Linked DNA regions of Homo sapiens: region 1 is linked to region 2. The links come from fine-mapping of genetic effects on gene expression. A gene starts in region 2. The other region holds a variant in brackets. All regions are shown on one strand. Distances are from middle to middle.

What was found. PIP is the estimated chance that this variant, and not a neighbour inherited with it, causes the effect.
Region 1: its variant is fine-mapped to the expression of SRGAP1 in testis (GTEx, PIP 0.96).

Annotation. Positions count from the first base shown.
Region 1 is chr12:64,126,849-64,136,036 of GRCh38, forward strand. SRGAP1 (SLIT-ROBO Rho GTPase activating protein 1) reads left to right here. Exons shown (of 22, transcript NM_020762.4): 20 at 742-876; 21 at 1,013-1,352. LOC105369798 (a long non-coding RNA gene) reads right to left here and starts at 3,884. Exons shown (of 2, transcript XR_945018.2): 1 at 3,326-3,884. The variant T/C (reference allele first, on the strand shown) is at 3,897.
Region 2 is chr12:63,840,212-63,849,399 of GRCh38, forward strand. SRGAP1 (SLIT-ROBO Rho GTPase activating protein 1) reads left to right here and starts at 4,489. Exons shown (of 22, transcript NM_020762.4): 1 at 4,489-4,672. The coding sequence starts at 4,606. RefSeq lists silencers at 3,422-3,841, 3,902-3,961, 4,072-4,331 and enhancers at 3,494-3,995, 3,996-4,495.

The sequences.
Region 1 (9,188 bases), 290 kb after region 2:
ATATAAAATAAATTTGCATAACTATCTGTACAGTCATGTACCACACAATGACATTTTGAGCATCAATGGACCACATATATGATGGTGGTCCCATAGGATTTAATATCCTATTTTTACTGTACCTTTTCTATGTTTAGATATGTTTAGATACGCAAATACTTGTTTACACCATTGTGTTACAACTGCCTGTAGCATTCAGTACAGTAACATGCTGTGCAGGTTTGTAGCCTAGGAGCAATAGGCTCCACCATGTAGCCTAGGTGTGCAATAGGCTCTACCATCTAGGTTTGTGTAAGTGCACTCTATGATGTTCCCACAATGATGAGATTGCTTGACAACGCATTTCTCAGAACGTATCCTCGCCGTTAAGCAACACGTGACTGTAGTATAAATGCCATACATATGTATGTACACAATCACAGATATGTATCCCAGGCATAGAATAGAAGATGGAGGAGGATATTTCTTAAAATTCTAACAGTAGTTGTCTCTGGATGTTATATTATGGGTGATTATTTCAGTCTTTTTTGTATAACTGAAATTGCTGTTGTACCTGTAATGAAATTGTATTGCTTTTATAATGAAAAGAGAAAAGTTATTTTAATAAAAGAAGGGCTTTCATGCATAATGCTATTTCATACATAAATGCTATCACGTAAATTTTCATCTCCACTCATCTAGCAAATTTTGTAAAATTTGTAAATCTAGTAAATTTTGTCTCCATTCCTCTTACTGCTTCAGGGATGATACGTTTTCAGACACTCTGAGCCAAAAAGCCGACAGTGAGGCCAGCAGTGGGCCAGTCACGGAAGACAAGTCCTCATCCAAGGACATGAACTCCCCGACAGACCGTCATCCTGACGGCTATTTAGCCAGGTAAGTAGAGCCTGGGAATCAGGCCCCTAAGCCTCCGCTCCTCCTGGGGCCATGAGGAGCCACTGCACCTCAGCCTTGCAGTACTGCCCGGTGTGATAAGCTCTTCTGTTTTCTCCCTGTTTCTGTGAATGTCTAGGCAACGAAAAAGAGGAGAGCCACCCCCTCCAGTAAGGCGTCCTGGCAGGACCAGTGATGGCCATTGCCCGCTCCACCCTCCACATGCCCTTTCTAACTCCTCAGTTGACCTAGGGTCCCCAAGCCTTGCCAGTCACCCCCGGGGCCTGCTGCAGAACCGTGGCCTCAACAATGACAGTCCTGAGCGGAGGCGCAGGCCTGGCCATGGCAGCCTGACCAACATCAGCCGGCACGACTCCCTCAAGAAGATCGACAGCCCTCCCATTAGAAGGTCCACGTCATCAGGGCAATACACGGGCTTCAATGACCACAAGCCACTGGACCCAGAGACAATTGCTCAGGTACGATGCTTTTAATTACATATTGCATTTTAAGTACCTAAGTGTGATGTAGGAGGTGTGAAAGATTTACTTTATTTACTTTTTACTTTATTTACTTTATATTTCTGTATAGAACCAACTAAAGAAAACAGAAACAAAACCAGCTCATTCTTTAACTTAGGCCCTGAGTCTTTTTTGAACAATTTGTTACTGAAAGGGCCCAAAGGTTCATAGTGATTTAAACAGAAACATGACAAAAACGTAGGACCAGGACACTCAAACCTATCATTGTGAATAGCCAGAAAAACTTTGAAAAAGAAGAATGGGAAAGCAGTGGCCCTGCCAGATCCTAAATGCATTCTAAAGCTAGTAAAACAGACAGATGGATGAAACAGAATGGAGAGCCCAGAAACAGAAAAACCTTAAAACAGTAGTCCCTCCTTATCTGCAGGGCATATGTTTCAAGACCCCCAGTGGATGCCTGAAGCCACAGATAGTGCAAACCCCTACTGTATATGATAAAGATGGCACTTTCAACTTAGAAAAGATGAGACCTAATAAATAATGTGATCAATAATAGATAGATATTTGAAGAACAAGTCTGGATCCTATGTACCTCCTGAACACATTCAGGTCTTTGCTTCCCAACAGTGACTGCAGAGGGGCTGTGTAGTTTTCTTCTAATGACTAAAATTGACCAAGTAAAAGGGAAACAATACTAATAAATTTGCCCATCATTCTACCATTTTTCCCTCTGGTTCTGGCTCTTTTCACAGCACAGGCCATGAGAACATATGTTCGTAGGCCTAGTGGGTGGCTTACACCTGTAATCCCAACACTTTAGGAGGCTGAGGCAAGAAGATAGCTTGAGGTTAGGAGTTTGAGACAAGCCTGGTCAATATAGCAAAATCCCGTGTCTAAAAAAAAAAATTTTTTTTTAATTACCTAGGTATATTAGGATTCTCTAGAGGGACAGAATTAATGGAATATATATACATATAAAGGGGAGTTTATTAAGTATTAACTCACACAATCACAGAGTCCCACAATAGGCCATCTGCAGGCTGAGGAGCAAGGAGAGCCAGTCCAAGTTCCAAAACTGAAGAACTTGGAGTCTGATGTTCAAGGGCAGGAAGCATACAGCACGGGAGGAAGACGTAGGCTGGGAGGCTAGGCCAGTCTAACCTTTTCATGTTTTTCTGCCTGCTTTATGTTCACTGGCAGTTAATTAGATGGTGCCCATCCAGATTAAGGGTGGGTCTGCCTTCCCCAGCCCACTGACTCAAATGTTAATTTCCTCTGGCAACCCCCTCACAGACACACCCAGGAGTAACACTTTGCATCCTTCAATCCAATCAAGTTGACACTCAGTATTAACCATCACAAGTCTACCCCTTGTCAACTTGAACCCATAAACATCTCCTGAGATCGTACATAATCTTCAAATAAAAACAATAATGTCATAATTACGCCTAACATGATACAACTGTCCTTTCCTATAACCGGAAACACACCAATCCCCAACCCAAATGCTATTACATAAAGTTAACAATACTTAAATGCTGATAGGAAGTCAATATAATCTTATGTCACATGCTAAAGGAAAAAGGAAATAAAATGAAGATATTTTCCTAGTACAAGTGTATACATGCACAAACATGTTTTTAACGAAAGAAGGAAATACTCATGACAATTACAGTCCCTGTTTCCACGTGGTCATAGCTGGTATTGATGACTACCTTCTACTACCCATTCCGTATTCCCTTTGCCTTCAGCAAGCACCTCAGCAGGTCGTGGTTGTTGTTGTTGTTGTTGTTGTTGTTGTTGTTTTCCTGGCGGAGTGACCCAAACCTTCATTCCTGAAGGGTCTGGGCCATTTGTAGTCCTGCCTGGATTGGGCTATTGTAGTTTCCCATTGACCTTAATCACAGAGCGTGGTAATACTAAGAAACGCCCTAATGGATCTCCTGTATTCCATGCACACTCTTTTTTACCTGCATCGTGGAGTAGTCGACTGATTTCATCTTGATAGTCTGAGTCAGTCACCTTAGCCAACACTGTAACTCCCTTCTTAGTCTGTTGCCTTAAAGGTAGGAGGAGCCCAAAGTGTCCAGGTGGCAATCTTAACTCAATGGCATTGTTGCTGTGTCTCCTGGTGGCACATTCCTCCCTCTGGAACTGAGACCTCTAGGCCAGCAGAACATAATGTCGCGGGAACAGGAAGTAAAAATGTTGCTAGGGGGTCACTAGGGATAATGATGAATGGTGCCACTTCCACTTCCACCTCTTGATTCCTGGACCCGTGAATCCTGGCTATGGGAGAAACTGCACCATGTATTGGACACAGATTCAGAGCATACACAGCCTTCTGGGGAACTTTGCCCCAGCCCTGCAAAGTATTGTCACCTAGTTGGTGTTGCAATTGTGACATCACAAGACCAATCCACCATTCTGTCAATCCAGCTGCTTCAGGATGATAGGGAGCATGGTAAGACCCATGAATTCCATGAGCATGAGCCCACTGCCACTCTTCTTTAGCCATAAAGTAAGTGCCTTGGTCAGAGG[T/C]AATGCTGTGTGGAATACCATCATGGTGGATAAGGCATTCCATGAGTCACAGATGGTAGTCTTGGCAGAAGCATTGTGTGCAGGATAGGCAAACCCATATCCGGAGTAACTGTCTATTCCAGTGAGGACAAACCTCTGCCCTTTTCATGATGGAAGAGGTCCAGTGTAATCAACCTGCCACCAGGTAGCTGGCTGATCACCCTGAGGAATGGTGCCATATCGAGGGCTGTGTTGGCTTCTGCTGCTGGCAAATTGAGCACTAAGCAGTGGCCATAGCCAGGTCAGCCTTGGTGAGTGGAAGTCCATGTTGCTGAGCCCATGAGTAACCTCCATCCCTGCCACTATGGCCACTTTGTTCATGGGCCCATTGAGCAAGAACAGGGGTGGCTGGGGAAAGAGGCTGAATGGTGTCCACAGAATGGCTCATCCTATCCACTTGATTATCAAAATCCTCCTCTGCTGAGGTCACCCGTTGGTGAGTACTCACATGGTATACAAATATCTTCACAGTTTTTGACCACTCAGAGAGGTCCATCCACATACCTCTTCCACAAATTTGTCACCAATTTTGCAATCATACTTCTTCTAAGTCCCTGACCATCCAGCCAAACCATTGGCTACAGTCCACGAATCAGTGTATAATCACACATCTGGCCATTCCTCCTTCCATGCAAAGTGCACAGCCAGGTGCACTGCTCGAAGTTCTGCCCACTGGGAAAGATTCCCTTCACCACTGTCCTTCAGGGATGTCCTAGAAAGGGGCTGTAGTGCTGCAGCTGTCCACTTTCGGGTGGTGCCTGCATATCATGCAGAACCGTCTGTGAACCAGGCCCTAGTCTTCTCTTCCTCTGTCAAGTGATCATAGGGAACTCCCCATGAGGCCATCAGTGCAGCCTGGGCATTTGAGCCACTTCCTCATGTAACTTATGCCTTCAGGAGTTGCATGAGCTCGATCACATATATACCACTTCCATTTGATGATGGAATGCTGCTGTGCACGACCCGCTTTATGGCTAGATGTGTCAGAAAGCACCCAGTTCATAATAGGCAGTTCAGGTTGCATGGTGACTTGATGACCCATGGTCAAACGTTCAGTTTCCACCAAAGCCCAGTAACAGGCCAAGAGCTGTCTCTCAAAAGGAGAGTAGTTGGCCAGGCGCAGTGGCTCATGCCTGTAATCCCAGCACTTTGGGAAGCCAAGGCGGGTAGATCACGAGGTCAGGAGTTCAAGACCAGCCTGACCAATATGGTGAAACCCGATCTCTACTAAAAATGCAAAAATTAGCCAAGTGTGGTGGCACACGCCTGTAGTCCCAACTACTCGGGAGGTTGAGGCAGAAGAATCATTTGAACCAGAGAGGTGACGTTGCAGTGAGCCAAGATCACGCCACTGCACTCCAGCCTGGGTGACAGACAGAGACTCCATCTCAAAAAGAAAAGGAGAGCAGTTATCTGCAGAAGAAGGCAGGGCCTTGCTCCAAAATCCTAGAGGCCTCCGCTGTGATTCACCTATGGGGGCCTGCCAAAGGCTCTAAACAGCATCCCTATCTGCCACTGACACCTCAAGCACCATTGGATCTGATGGGTCATATGGCCCAAGTGGCAGAGCAGCTTGCACAGCAGCCTGGACCTGTTGCAGAGCCTTCTCCTGTTCTGGACCCCACTCAAAACTGGCAGCCTTTTGAGTCACTCGATAAATGGGCCAGAGTAACACACCCAAAAGAGGAACGTGTTGCCTCCAAAATCCAAATAGGCCCACTAGGCGTTGTGCCTCTTTCTTGTTTGCAGGAGGGGCCAAACGCAGCAACTTATCCTTCATCTTAGAAGGAATATCTTGATAGGCCCCACACCACTGGACCTCTAAAAATTTTACTGAGGTAGAAGGTCCCTGAATTTTAGTCAGATTTATTTCCCATCCTCTAGCACACAAATGTCTCACCAATAAGTCCAGTGTGTTTGCTACTTCTTGCTCACTGGATCCAGTCAGCATAATGTCATCAATGTAATGGACCAGTGTAATATCTTGCGGAAGCAAAAAGCAATCAAGGTCTCTCCGAGTAAGATTATGACACAAAGCCAGAGAGTTGCTATACCCCTGAGGTAGGACAGTAAAGGTATATTGCTGGCCTTGCCAGCTGAAAGCAAATTACTTCTGGTGGGCCTTATGGACAAGAATGGAGAAAAAGGCATTTTCCAAGTCAGTGGCTCCAATCCACATACCAGGAGATGTGTTAATTTGCTCAAGCAATGAAACCACATCTGGTACAGCAGCTGCACTTGGAGTCACCACTTGGTTAAGCTTACAATAATCCACTGTCATTCTCCAGAATCCATCTGTCTTCTGCACAGGCCAAATGGGAGAGTTGAATGAGGATGTGGTGGGAATCACCACCCCTGCATCTTTCAAGTCCTTGATGGTGGCATTAATCTCTACAGTCCCTCCAGGGATGCAATATTGTTTTTAATTTACTATTTTTCTAGGTAAAGCCTGCTCTAATGGCTTCCATTTGGCCTTTCCCACCATAATAGCCCCCACCCTACCAGTCCAGAGCCAATGTGGGGGTTCTGCCAGCTGCTAAGTATGTCTGTGCCAATTATGCATTCTGGCACTGGGGAAATGACCACAGGAGAAGTCTGGGGACCCATTAGACTCACTGTAAGTCAGACCTGAGCTAAAACTCCATTAATTACCTGACCTCCACAAGCCACTACTTTAACTGGAGCACCACAACGACATTTTGGGTCCCCTGGAATCAGTGTCAGCTCAGAGCCAGTGTCCATTAGTCCCCAAAATGTCTGATCATTTCCCTTTCCCCATTACACAGTTACCCTGGTAAAAGGCTGGAGGTCCCCTTGGGGAAGGATGGGATAAAGATTCACTGCATAAATTGTCAGTAATATAGCGGGGTCCTTCCTCAAAGGGACCTGGCCTCCTCTTCATTCAAGGGGTTCTGGGTCTGTAAACTGGGTCAAGTCTGGAAATTGATTGAGGGGCCATGATTCTCTGTTTTCATAATTCAAATTAGTCTTTTGTCCATCCAACCTAGAAGTTTTCTGCTTGTGTAAATTAAGTAGGAATGCAGTAGGCTTCCTATCAATTTCACTTTTAGGAACAACGTGATTAATTAGCCAATGCCAGAGTTCTACACGAGTCAGACTATTCTGCTTGCTGCTTTGCCTCTGCTGTGCATTACTGTAGCTATGCCCACCTTGCCTTTGATGATTGAGTGTCGCCTTGCCTTTGATGATTGAGTGTTGCCACTTGGCTCCTGCTACCTTGGGATCCAATTATCTCCATTGTATTTAAATTTTGTAGTTGAGTGACTGTGGTTCCCACCGTTAGATCTGACATACAGAGAACAGCAATTACAGGGCTCTTCAAAGATGCAAGTGCTGGCCAAGTGCGGTGGCTCATGCCTATAATCTCAGCACTTTGGGAGGCCAAGGCAGGCAGATCACGGGGTCAGGAGATTGAGACCATCCTGGCTAACATGGTGAAACCCCGTCTCTACTAAAAATCTAAAAAATTAGCTGGGAGTGGTGGTGGGTGCCTGTAGTCCCAGCTACTTGGGAGGCTGAGGCAGGAGAATGGCGTGAACCCGGGAGGCAGAGCTTGCAGTGAGCCAAGATTGCGCCACTGCACTCTAGCCTGAGCGACACAGCAAGACTCCATCTCAAAAAAAAAAAAAAAGATGCAAGTGCTGCTCTCACAAATCTGTTTTGCAAGGCATTGGTCAAGGACTCTCCCAGCTGGGATGAGTAAGTCTAAAGTGACTAATCCACTCCACCATCCCAATCTCCCTAAGCCTTTGGATCCCTTCCTCTACATTAAACCAAGGGAGAGCAGGCATTTTCAGCTCACTCACAGTGCTCACAGTGGGCCATCTTTCAATCCATATTTCAGTTAACCAAGCAAATAAACTATTAGAACCTTTTTTAACTCCCCGAGCTGCAACATTAAATGCAGAGCTCCTACTTAATGGGCCCAAATCAATAAATTCAGCCTGATCTGACTCTATGTTCCATCTACCATTATCCCACACCATTAATATCCATTCCCATGCCTGTTATCCAGATTTCTATTTATATAAATTAGAAAACTCAAGCAGTTCTTTTCTAGTGTGGCACACCTCTTCATGGGTCACACTCTCAACCTCACCTCCAGGGGCCTGCCGGGATATTAGTCTAGTTACAGGTCTAGAAGCAAACAGAAGTGTTGGAGGTGGCTCCTGAGGAGAGTCAACATTATCTTGCCTGGCAGCTGCCTCATGGGAGGCCATCACCATTGCCTCAGGCAGCACAGGGTTTATCTCCTCAGACAAAGGTGGAAAGGCTGATGGCAGCATGGGTCAGGGAGGGGATGTTGCCGCTACTGGGGATAGGGAAGCTGTTTCTTCTGGCAAAAAAGGTTCATCAGGGTTTACAAACTCAGTGCCCCCAGCTTCATCAGGGTCCTCCCACACATCCCCATTCCAAGTTGCAGGGTCCCATTCTTTTCTAATCAATGCCCTCACTTTAACAGTAGACACCTGGTGAGGCTGTGCATGTATCTTTCATTGCAGGTCAGCGACTTGCATAAGAACTCGTGTCTGGTTCTCCATAATTTTAGTTCTTTATCTGTGGGAGATAAGACTCACACTCAGGGCAGTCTTAGCAGATTTGAGGTTCAGTATCTGCTTCTGAAGCCAGGAGATAGAATCCTTGAGTTCATCATTTTTTTTCATCACTTTGTCCACTGAACTTAGGAACAACCAACCAGCTTCACTATGTTCCTTGGTTCTCTACATAATACTCCATACAAATGTATTATGTACGGAGTCACTAAACTCCTTGCCTCTCACGAGCGATGAATCAGGAGTGTCAAATGCACGTATTTTGCATAACTCTCTAAACAGTTCACACCAAGAACTATCAGTGTTCTCCATCCTATTAGAAGTAAAGTCCTTAGTATTTTTTGGTCTAATCATATAAAGCAGAAGCCCCAAAATCAATGAAAGAACTCCATCCTTAATATTCTGTCCCTCTAGAACCACTCCTGGTACCAAAACCTGTATTAGTCAGGGCTCTCTGGAGGTACAGAATTAATGGAATACATATACATATAAAGGTGAGTTTATTATTAACTCACACAATCACAAGGTCCCACAATAAGCCGTCTGCAGGCTGAGGAGCAAGGAGTCGGTCCAAGTTCCAAAACTGAAGAACTTGGAGTCTGATGTTTAAGAGCAGGAAGCATCCAGCATGGGAGAAAGATGTAGGCTGGGAGGCTAGGCCAGTCTAACCTTTTCACGT
Region 2 (9,188 bases):
GGAAGTGGAATGGAAAATTGGAAAGAGTACCCACTTTGGAGACAGGCAGATGTGAACTGGAATTCTGACCCTGCCAGGCCAGACATTTACTGAATTTTCTGAGCCTCCAGATTCTCATCTGTAAAATGAGGACAATGGTGTCCGCCATGTAGGGTTCTTCTGAGAATGTGTGCAAAATTCTTACCTTAGTGGGTATATCCCATCTTCAACAACAATAAAATGGTGGCCTACTAATGGTGGCATTAATATTCAATACATTTTATTGACTGTGTATTGAACACCATAATAAAATTAAAGATGAAACATTATCTCTGATCTTTATTTATTCTTTGTAGAAATGAGGCTGGTCTTGTACTCCTGGGCTCAAGCAATCCTCCCACCTCAGCCTCCCAAAGTGTTTAGATTACAGGCATGAGCCACCACGCCCAGCCTATCTCTGATTTTTAGATAGCTTTCTATTAGGAAGAGTAAAACTAAGATAATAATTGTAAAGATAACTAATACTCACTGGGTGTATACCATGGCCTACAAGTACTTTTAAGGGTTTATCTCAGTAAGTGCTTATAACATCCCCAGGACTTAGGCATTAACCAATTTTACAGATAAGGAAAATTTGTAACCCATTTTACAAACTAAGGCCTAGAGAGAATAGTAATTTTTACCAGATCCCTTAGGAAACAGCAGATTTAGGATTCACCTCTGGGCACCCTGTCTCTGGGGCTTGTTTGCAACACACTGATTTAGGTCTAGACTCAGGCAACAATTCATTTCTAGGTGCTGCAATCTCTGCTGTCAACTTGTGCTTCCCAGGTGCAAATATGAAACAAATCCCAACAGCATCATGGATATGAATCCCATTTAGATGTGACTATGATTATCACCTAAGTAGGCTGCCTGCCTGGTCTCTCTTTCTCTATGGCTAACCCATCCTTCTACACTGCCAACAGTTATCTTTATAAAACACAAATCTGATCGTGATACTTCTCTACTTAAAAGGCTCCCTGCTGTCTGCAGAACTGTGTCCAAGATCTTAGCATGGCACAGGAGGACTCTCCCAGCTGGCCCTGACCTTCCTTCCAGCCTCTGCTTTCTCTTCACCGTACACTCTTACATAAGACAGCTCCACGTGAAATTAGGGCAGCCAGGGGTGCCATAGTATAACTGCCTGTGTGGTAAAATGAAAAAAAGACTGAAAAAAAAACTTAAAAAAAATTGGCATATTTTCTTTACATATATTCTGTTGCTATAAAGTAAAAAAAACTTGCTAAAATTAGATTTTAAAAAAGCAGTGCAATTAACAATGTCCACATACCCACATACTATCAGCTGACACATGCATATACATATATTACAATTTTTTACATTATTTTTCACCATCTAGCAGAGATCTGGTATCTTAGTGGAAGATATCTTGTCACTCTATTTGCAATTCCTCTAGAGTATAACACTCTTCCTTTTCCCTGGAATGCATCCCTTTTCCTCCCTAAAGTTGCCAGCTACTTACTATTCATCCTTTAAATCCAGCTCAAAACCACTCCTCTGCGAACTCTTACACCCAATCCTCTTATGCAGTCTGTTTTTCCATCCCCAGTGCTCCCAAGACTGGGAGTATTTCTATCTCTTACAGCATTATTGTACTGCTTGTAATTATTTATTTATACAGTAATAGACTGCATGATCCTTTCCGGCAGTCTTAATCTTTGAATCCCTAGTTCCTAGCGTGGTGTTTGGCACAGAGTTAAGAACTGGAGAGCCGATCACTGGATACATGAAAGAATGATCAAAGTCTAAAAGTCCCTACTTTCTTTAGATCTTGTGGGGAAAACACTTGAGGGGATACACCTTTGGACACATCATTTTGATAAATCAGGCCCATAATATTTGAGAATTGATTTGAAAGGAGTCAGTAAATATCTCAAGTGGTGTGAGTCAAAAAGGCTAACAGAACCAGGTGTGGTGGCTGATGCTTGTAATCCCAGTGCTTTGGGAGGCTGAGGTCGGAGGATTTTCTTTTTTTTTTTTTTTTTTTTTTTTGAGAAGGAGTCTCCCTCTGTCGCCCAGGCTGGAGTGCAGTGGTGCAATCTTGGCTCACTGCAACCTCCACCTCCTGGGTTCAAGCGATTCTCCTGCCTCCGCCTCCTGAGTAGCTGGGATTATAGGCACATGCCACCATGCCCGGCTAAGTTTTATATTTTTAGTAGAGATGGGGTTTCACCATGTTGGCCAGGCTGGTCTCGGACTCTTGACCTTGTGATCTGCCCACCTCGGCCTCCCAAAGTGCTGGGATTACTGGTGTAAACCACCGTGCCCAGCCAGAATCTTTTGAGGCCAGGAGTTTGAGACCAGCCTGGGCCATAGAGCAAGGCTTCATCTCTACAAAAAAGTAAAAATAATAAAAAAAAATTTAAAAGGCTGGCAAGGATGGATTTAAAGTACTTAACACAACACCTGAACCATGCAAAGATGGCAAGGTAAATTCTTCGTTATATTGTTCAAAAAGAGACTAGAGTTTGAGACCAGCCTGGACAACATAGGGAGACCCCCGTCTGTACTAAAATGAAAACAAACAAACAAATAAAATAAAAAGAGACTAGACACGATAGATCTTGTAAAAGGTATCTATTAAAAACGTGGCCGGGCGCCGTGGCTCACACCTGTAATCCTACCACTTTGGGAGGCCGAGGTGAGCGGATCACTTGAGGTCAGGAGTTCAAGACCAGCCTGACCAACATGGCAAAACCCTGTTTCTACTAAAGATACAAAAATTACCCAGGCACGGTGGCGGGCGCCTGTAGTCACACCTACTCTGGAGGCTGAGCCAGGAGAATCACTTGAACCCGGGAGGCGGAGGTTGCAGTGAGCGGAGCTCGTGCCCCTGCACTCCAGCCTGGGCGAGAGTGAGACCCCGTCTCAAAAAAAACCCCCAAAAAACAAAATCAAAAAACAAAAACAAAAACAACCGTAAAAGTACTAAGTGCAATGTAGTGTCCTGTGTTGGATCTTGGAACAGAAAAAATGACACTAGTCGAAAAAATTGGTAAAATTGGAATAAAATCTGGAGTTTAGTAAATAAATAAGCTAACAACGCCGTTAAGTGTGACGTGTTTCCATACCATCGCTTTCCTACCATCCTAGCTTCCCTATCTACTGTAGGAATAGAGGATATGGTGTTCAAGGTGGGTGTTTTTCTCCGCCTCGATTGAAGAGCTTCGCGCTCTTTGGATTAACAGCCAGGTCATTCACAATTCAGTGTTCAGTTTTTCTATTGGGGTCCAGCGTCTCGGAGTAACATCCCTTTGTGTCATGGATACATCCAACTCTGGACTTCCCCATTAGATTCTGGCAAAAGCCCCACCAGAGCCCCCGCCAGAGCCAGAAGGCGGTCCCTCAGGTCAGGAAGGGGTTTTCCTGCCGCCGGAGCCGCGACCTCGGCTAGCGGTGGAGCGGGGCTTCGGCGGAGGGAGGTGCGGGGCCTCGGCGGAGGGAGGTGCCGGGGGCGCCGCCCACGGCCTCCTGGGCTCGGCGCGCGGGGCCGGGCTGCGGTTGGCCACAAGAGGCATCCATCTTCCCGGACCAGCCAGGCGTTTCCTAGCGGAGCAGGGGCGGGAGCTTGGACGGAGAAGGGCACAGGCCGGAGCGCGGTCCGCTCCCGCGAGCCTGGCCCCGCCTGGCGGAGCCCCGAGGAGCCACCGCCCGCAGATCGCTAGCCGGGCGCCCGCGAGGCGCGAGCCGTGTGCGCACCCTCAACTTTGCTGCCGCCGGGGGCGCGGCTCCCGCGTGCGTGTGCGAGTGTGCCTGTCACTAGCGGCCTCCTGGGGGCAGCAGCGGAAAGGGGGACGCAGAGAAAGGCAGCCTCGGCGCACCGCGGCCAGGGAGGCAGAGGCCCCTCGCGGCGCCGGCTCTGGAGACCTAAACTCCGCCGGGGCTGTGCCCAGGGCGCGTCTGAGCGTCGCCGCCTTCACCCTCTCAGCAGCAGCGGGGACTCGCGTCAGGACTGCGATTCCTTTCGCCTGCCGAGCTGTAGCGGCAGTGTCTGCGGGCAGAGGAGCGGCGGCCGTGGCAGCAGCATCCCCAGCCCGGGCGGGACCCTTGAGCGCCGGAGCCGACAGCTGGAGGCAGGAAGGGAGGGTTGTGGCGCCCGAGCTGGGCGCGTTCCCAGCGCCTGCCCTCCGCCGCTGGCCCTGTCCCGGGCGCCCGGTGCGGGTCTCGAACAATGGTGCGGAGCGCCGGCGCGAGCCCCGCGCCCGCCCAGCGGCCGTAGAGGAAGTGGCCGGGCTCCCGGCGAGGTGGGCAGGGAGACGTCCCCCGCCACTCGCTGGCTGGAGTTTGCCTGCGCGTCCGGCCTCTCCCCCGGGGATCCCCTGGGATTACCGACGGAGCTCAATTTCGAGAGTATGGTGCCAGCGCCCGGGCTAATCTAGTCCTCTCTACTCGCTCTTTTTCCCCTCCTCCTCCTACTTCTCCTCTCCCTCCTCCCTTCCCTCGGGTCGGCGCTGCCTCTGGATTGCCTGCGTGTGGGAGTACAACTCTGCCTCTCCAAGGAGAACGGGTTGTGACCACTGAACAAAACTTGCCCATTGAAAGCAAACCCGGAACAGCTGGATAATGTCCACCCCGAGCCGATTCAAGAAGGACAAAGAGATCATAGCCGAGTATGAAAGTCAAGTCAAAGGTAAGGATGGGAGCGGCTGCCTTGCTCCTTTTGTGTGCCTTCTTGTCATTGTGCTCGTGGAGTTGCGTATCTAACTTGGTGTCTGCGTGGGAGGAAGGTGGTGAGGGGACAGCTCGAGCCCTGTCTGAGCCACCTGGGCTTCCTACAAGCCAGTTAGTTCCCAGTTGCAATCCCAGTCCCGTCAAACCCACGGGGAGCTGGAAACTGGGTGACTTCCCCCGCCAGCTGCCAGCCCGCATCTCTAATGGGGAGAGAACTGGCTTTAACTTAACCACCTTCAGCTGGGCAACTTATGTGGGAAGCAGGCAGCAGTGGAGGATCCTGTCCAGCTATTATTATCACCATCATTATTCTTTTTAAATGGTAGGATTGTCACTACGTAATTTTTTTACGGAATGATTTTTGTAAAGTCTGTGAACCCCAAGCGGTCTACAGCCTCATTGAGTGCAGGCTATTTCAGATATTTACACCACTCACCTATTTACACCGCTCACAATTTATTAGGGCGAGACCCCTTTTATTAAATAGCTCCCTAAAAGCCTGGCAGTTAAACGAAGCAGTGACTAGTGGAATCTGACTCTTCCTTTATAATGGGCCAGAATTCATTGCCATCTTTCACACTCACATGGGAATATTGCTTTATCATTTTCTGGAAGCCACTTGCATGTAAAATGAAGGTTTGAATATTTGAGTAGTAGTTTCAGTCCATTTACATTGTCAACTAATGAAGGAAACCTAATTAAGGCTGATTATTTTTACTTTCTATGCCTTGTGATTAAAAATATATATATTTTCTCTCCAATACAAGTATTTTGTTTTGTTACTGAAGTGTTTCGTAAACATATGTGTTACTTGAATTTTTTCCTCCTCTTTCCTGAGGTCTCAGGAGTAGCTTTCCTGATTGAGACAATGGATGGAATGTTGGGACCGCCACTGTTCTTTGACACATTCAATGCAAAGTTCATAAAGATTGCTATGTATACACCTGTGTTTATCTATGCACAGTCTTATGAAAGGGCTACGGAGAGAGGCATTACTGTACTTCCCTTGAGCAAGGGAGGAGCAGCCTGAGTGTTCTTTTGTGTGGTCAAGTTGTAAAAATGCCTGGAGTCCTGTGAGAGGACCTGGTGGAGAAATCCTGTATCATCCAGTGTGAATACAGACCAACTCATTGTGGACACTGCAGACACAATATGCAAGATAACTTAGGTTATCTTTAGGAGGACCCCTATAATGGAGTTATCTATAGGCTGACCCCTATAATGTGTTCAGGAGACACAGATTTTTGTCTGCTTGGAATTGTGATAATTTATACTTACAGGAACTTGTTTCATTGCTATGGAAGTTGTGTTAGCAGATAAGTAATTATTTTCTTAGAGCCAGGTAAACTTTCTAATGAGACTAACCTTTCTTTTTTCAGTGAGTCCAACATAGCCTAAAACCTTTCATTCCAGGGCAGTACTCTTGTTCACAACCACCATTTCTCTGTGCAGTTTTTCCACATGGCTCTTTGTGGCAGGTCTTCAAGGGGTGGCGGTCTGGTTTTTCTGCCGCCTAGAGCACTAATTGGCAAATGCACTTCCAAATGTTGATTTCTTTATGTTTGCTGTAAGGTCACTTGCCAGTGATCAAGTCCTTATTTGAAAATCAGCGAAATGGGATGTGTTGCAATGTGTCTATCAAATTCAAACGGAAGAAAAATCATGAACATGGTGAAAATCACATTTGGAGCTAAGTCTGTCCCACAGAGAATGACCTTCTCCCTATTTCCTTCAACACTTCTTCCTTCCACACACCCACGAGTCCCTAGGCTGCTTTAGGAGTCTTCACTGCACCTGCCCTGCCCTGAGTCCAGGCTTTACCTCCTCCTGCAGTACCTACACATCCAGTATCTAACCTAGATCACTACATCCATACACAAACATGGGAATAAGGGAATATCATGGAGTCAGATCATATACGCATTAAATGGCACAAATTCACCTGGTACTTCTAGGCAAATCAAGAAGAGAGTGGGAGACAAATAACAGATAAATAGTACATGAGGCCAGCTGTCCAATGCAGGGAGAGTAGGCCCCTTAGTAAGGACAGCATGGGAGACAAGACTGGTTTTTCTGTACCCTCGCAGAGTGCTAGTCTGTTATTTACAGGTATGTGTTTTGGGATCAGGTGCAGTGGTGCATGCCTGTAATCTCCGCATTTCAGGAGGCTGAGGCAGGCGGATCACTTGGGGTTAGGGGTTCAAGACCAGCCTGGCCAACATTTTGGTAGAGAAACCACATCTTTACCAAAAAATACAAAAATTAGCTAGGTGTGGTGGCACACACCTGTGGTCCCAGTGTGCCTGTGGTTCCACTTGAACCCAGGAGGCAGAGGTTACAGTGAGCCGAAATCACATCACTGCACTCCAGTCTGGGTGACAGAGTGAGACTCTGTCTAATAAATAAATAAATAAATAAAGGTATATGTATTTGGAACAAACTACTTTTTAAATTACAGTCAGCAACTTTATCTGATGATAAAAAAAAATTCTGTTCTATTGCTAAAGGAAAACCTGACTGTGTGGGACTCATTAAGACATAAGTCTAGGCCAGGCACGGTGGCTCACGCCTGTAATCCCAGCACTTTGGGAGACCGAGGTGGGCGGATCACTTGAGGCCGAGACCAGCCTGGCCAACATGGTGAAACCCTGTCCCTACTAAAAATACAAAAATTAGCCGGACATGGTGGTGCATGCCTGTAGTCCCAGCTACCCTGGAGGCTGAGTCAGGAGAATTGCTTGAACCCGGGAGGCAGAAGTTGCAGTGAGCTGAAATTGCGCCACTGCACTCCAGCCTGGCTGACAGAGTGAGACTCTGTCTCAAGAAAAACACAATGAATAAACATACATATTGGACTCTATAGGTGACTTAGGTGTGTGGGTGATTTCAAGAGTCATTTTGATTATATGTATTTTTTTTTCTACCTTCTAACTTAGAACCTAACACTCTAGAATATTTTCCCCTGTTACTCTCTCCCATTTTCCCTAATAACAACTTTATTTATCTCAGAATTTTTGAGATAATGTTTTGACCTAAAGGAATGACTTCAGATATGGAATTTTTTTATTCTTTAATTTTTATTTTATATATATATATATATAAAAGGAGTATCGGTCTGCTGCCCAGGCCAGAGTGCAGTGGCGTGGTCTCGGCTCAGTGCAACCTCCACCTCCTGGGTTCAAGTGATTCTCCTGCCTCAGCCTCTGGAGTAGTTGGAATTATATACACGCACCACCACGCCCAGTTAATTTTTGTATTTTTAGTAGAGATGGGGTTTCGACATGTTGGCCAGGCTGGTCTCGAACTCCTGACCTCAGGTGATCCACCTGCCTCTGCCTCCACCTCCCAAAGTGCTGGGATTACAGGCATGAGCCACTGCACCCGGCCCAGATATGGAATTTTGCCACTGTGGCTGCCTGCACAGGTTTTGGGAACAGACTTCATGGGGCTATTCTTAACTGTGAAAAGAACCATTCCTGGTGATAATTCGTAATTTTATGTATAAGATCATAGATGTATCTAGTTGTGTGTATCATTTTGGGCAAGTCACTTAGCCTTTCTCTGGGTTTCGGTTTTCTTATCTATAAGATAAGGAGTTGGAATTCTCTTCATCTTAAGTGTCTTTTTTTTTTCTTTTTGAGACAGAGTCTCACTCTGTCACCCAAGCTGGAGTGCAGTGACACGATCTCTGCTCTCTGAAGCCTCTGCCTTCCGGTTTCAAGTGATTCTCATGCCTCAGCCTCCTGAGTAGCTGGAAATACAAGCGTGCACCACCATGCCTGACTAATTTTTGTAATCCTAAGTGTCTTTGAATCTAATTGAAGATGTCATATCAGTTCATATTAATTGCCTCATAAAATTTTCAAGCTTTTAAAGTTTTCAGTTGGCTGCTCTGTTTTGTGGAGAATCATTTTTGCTTTCACTTTTTTTTCATAAGTTCATGGACAGTGTATAAATTGAGTTTTTGGAGAATTAAAATAGAATACAATAAAGAATACAGAAAAAACAGTAATCAAAACCACATGCAGAGAAATGTAGCACAGAATTGTAAGACAGAAGAATCAGGAATGATACAAGTGGTTAAACAGTGGATAGGTTTAAATGGGGGACAAAAGGGGACCCCAGGCAACAGTTTTAAAGAATGAATTGAACATTTCATGCCTCTTGGTCAAATTCTCAAAGACTTAGAATTAAGAGAAATAAATCTCTTGTTTGAATAGGCCATTAGAAAGCAAGCATGTCTGGAAAAGTGTATGAAACCCAAACCAGTTGACTATGCTATTTGTTAGCATCTCTGGCAAATAGCGTAGCAGTGGAAGGGATTGAATAATTGGCTAGCAGAAGGTTTTGAATTATCTGTGGACTTTAGTGATCTATGTAATTCTTGTATTCTGCAGCAAAAATATTGTGGAGCTACACATATGGGAACAATAAAGACTCATAAAGACATGTTTTATGAAGTGGAACTTATAGAT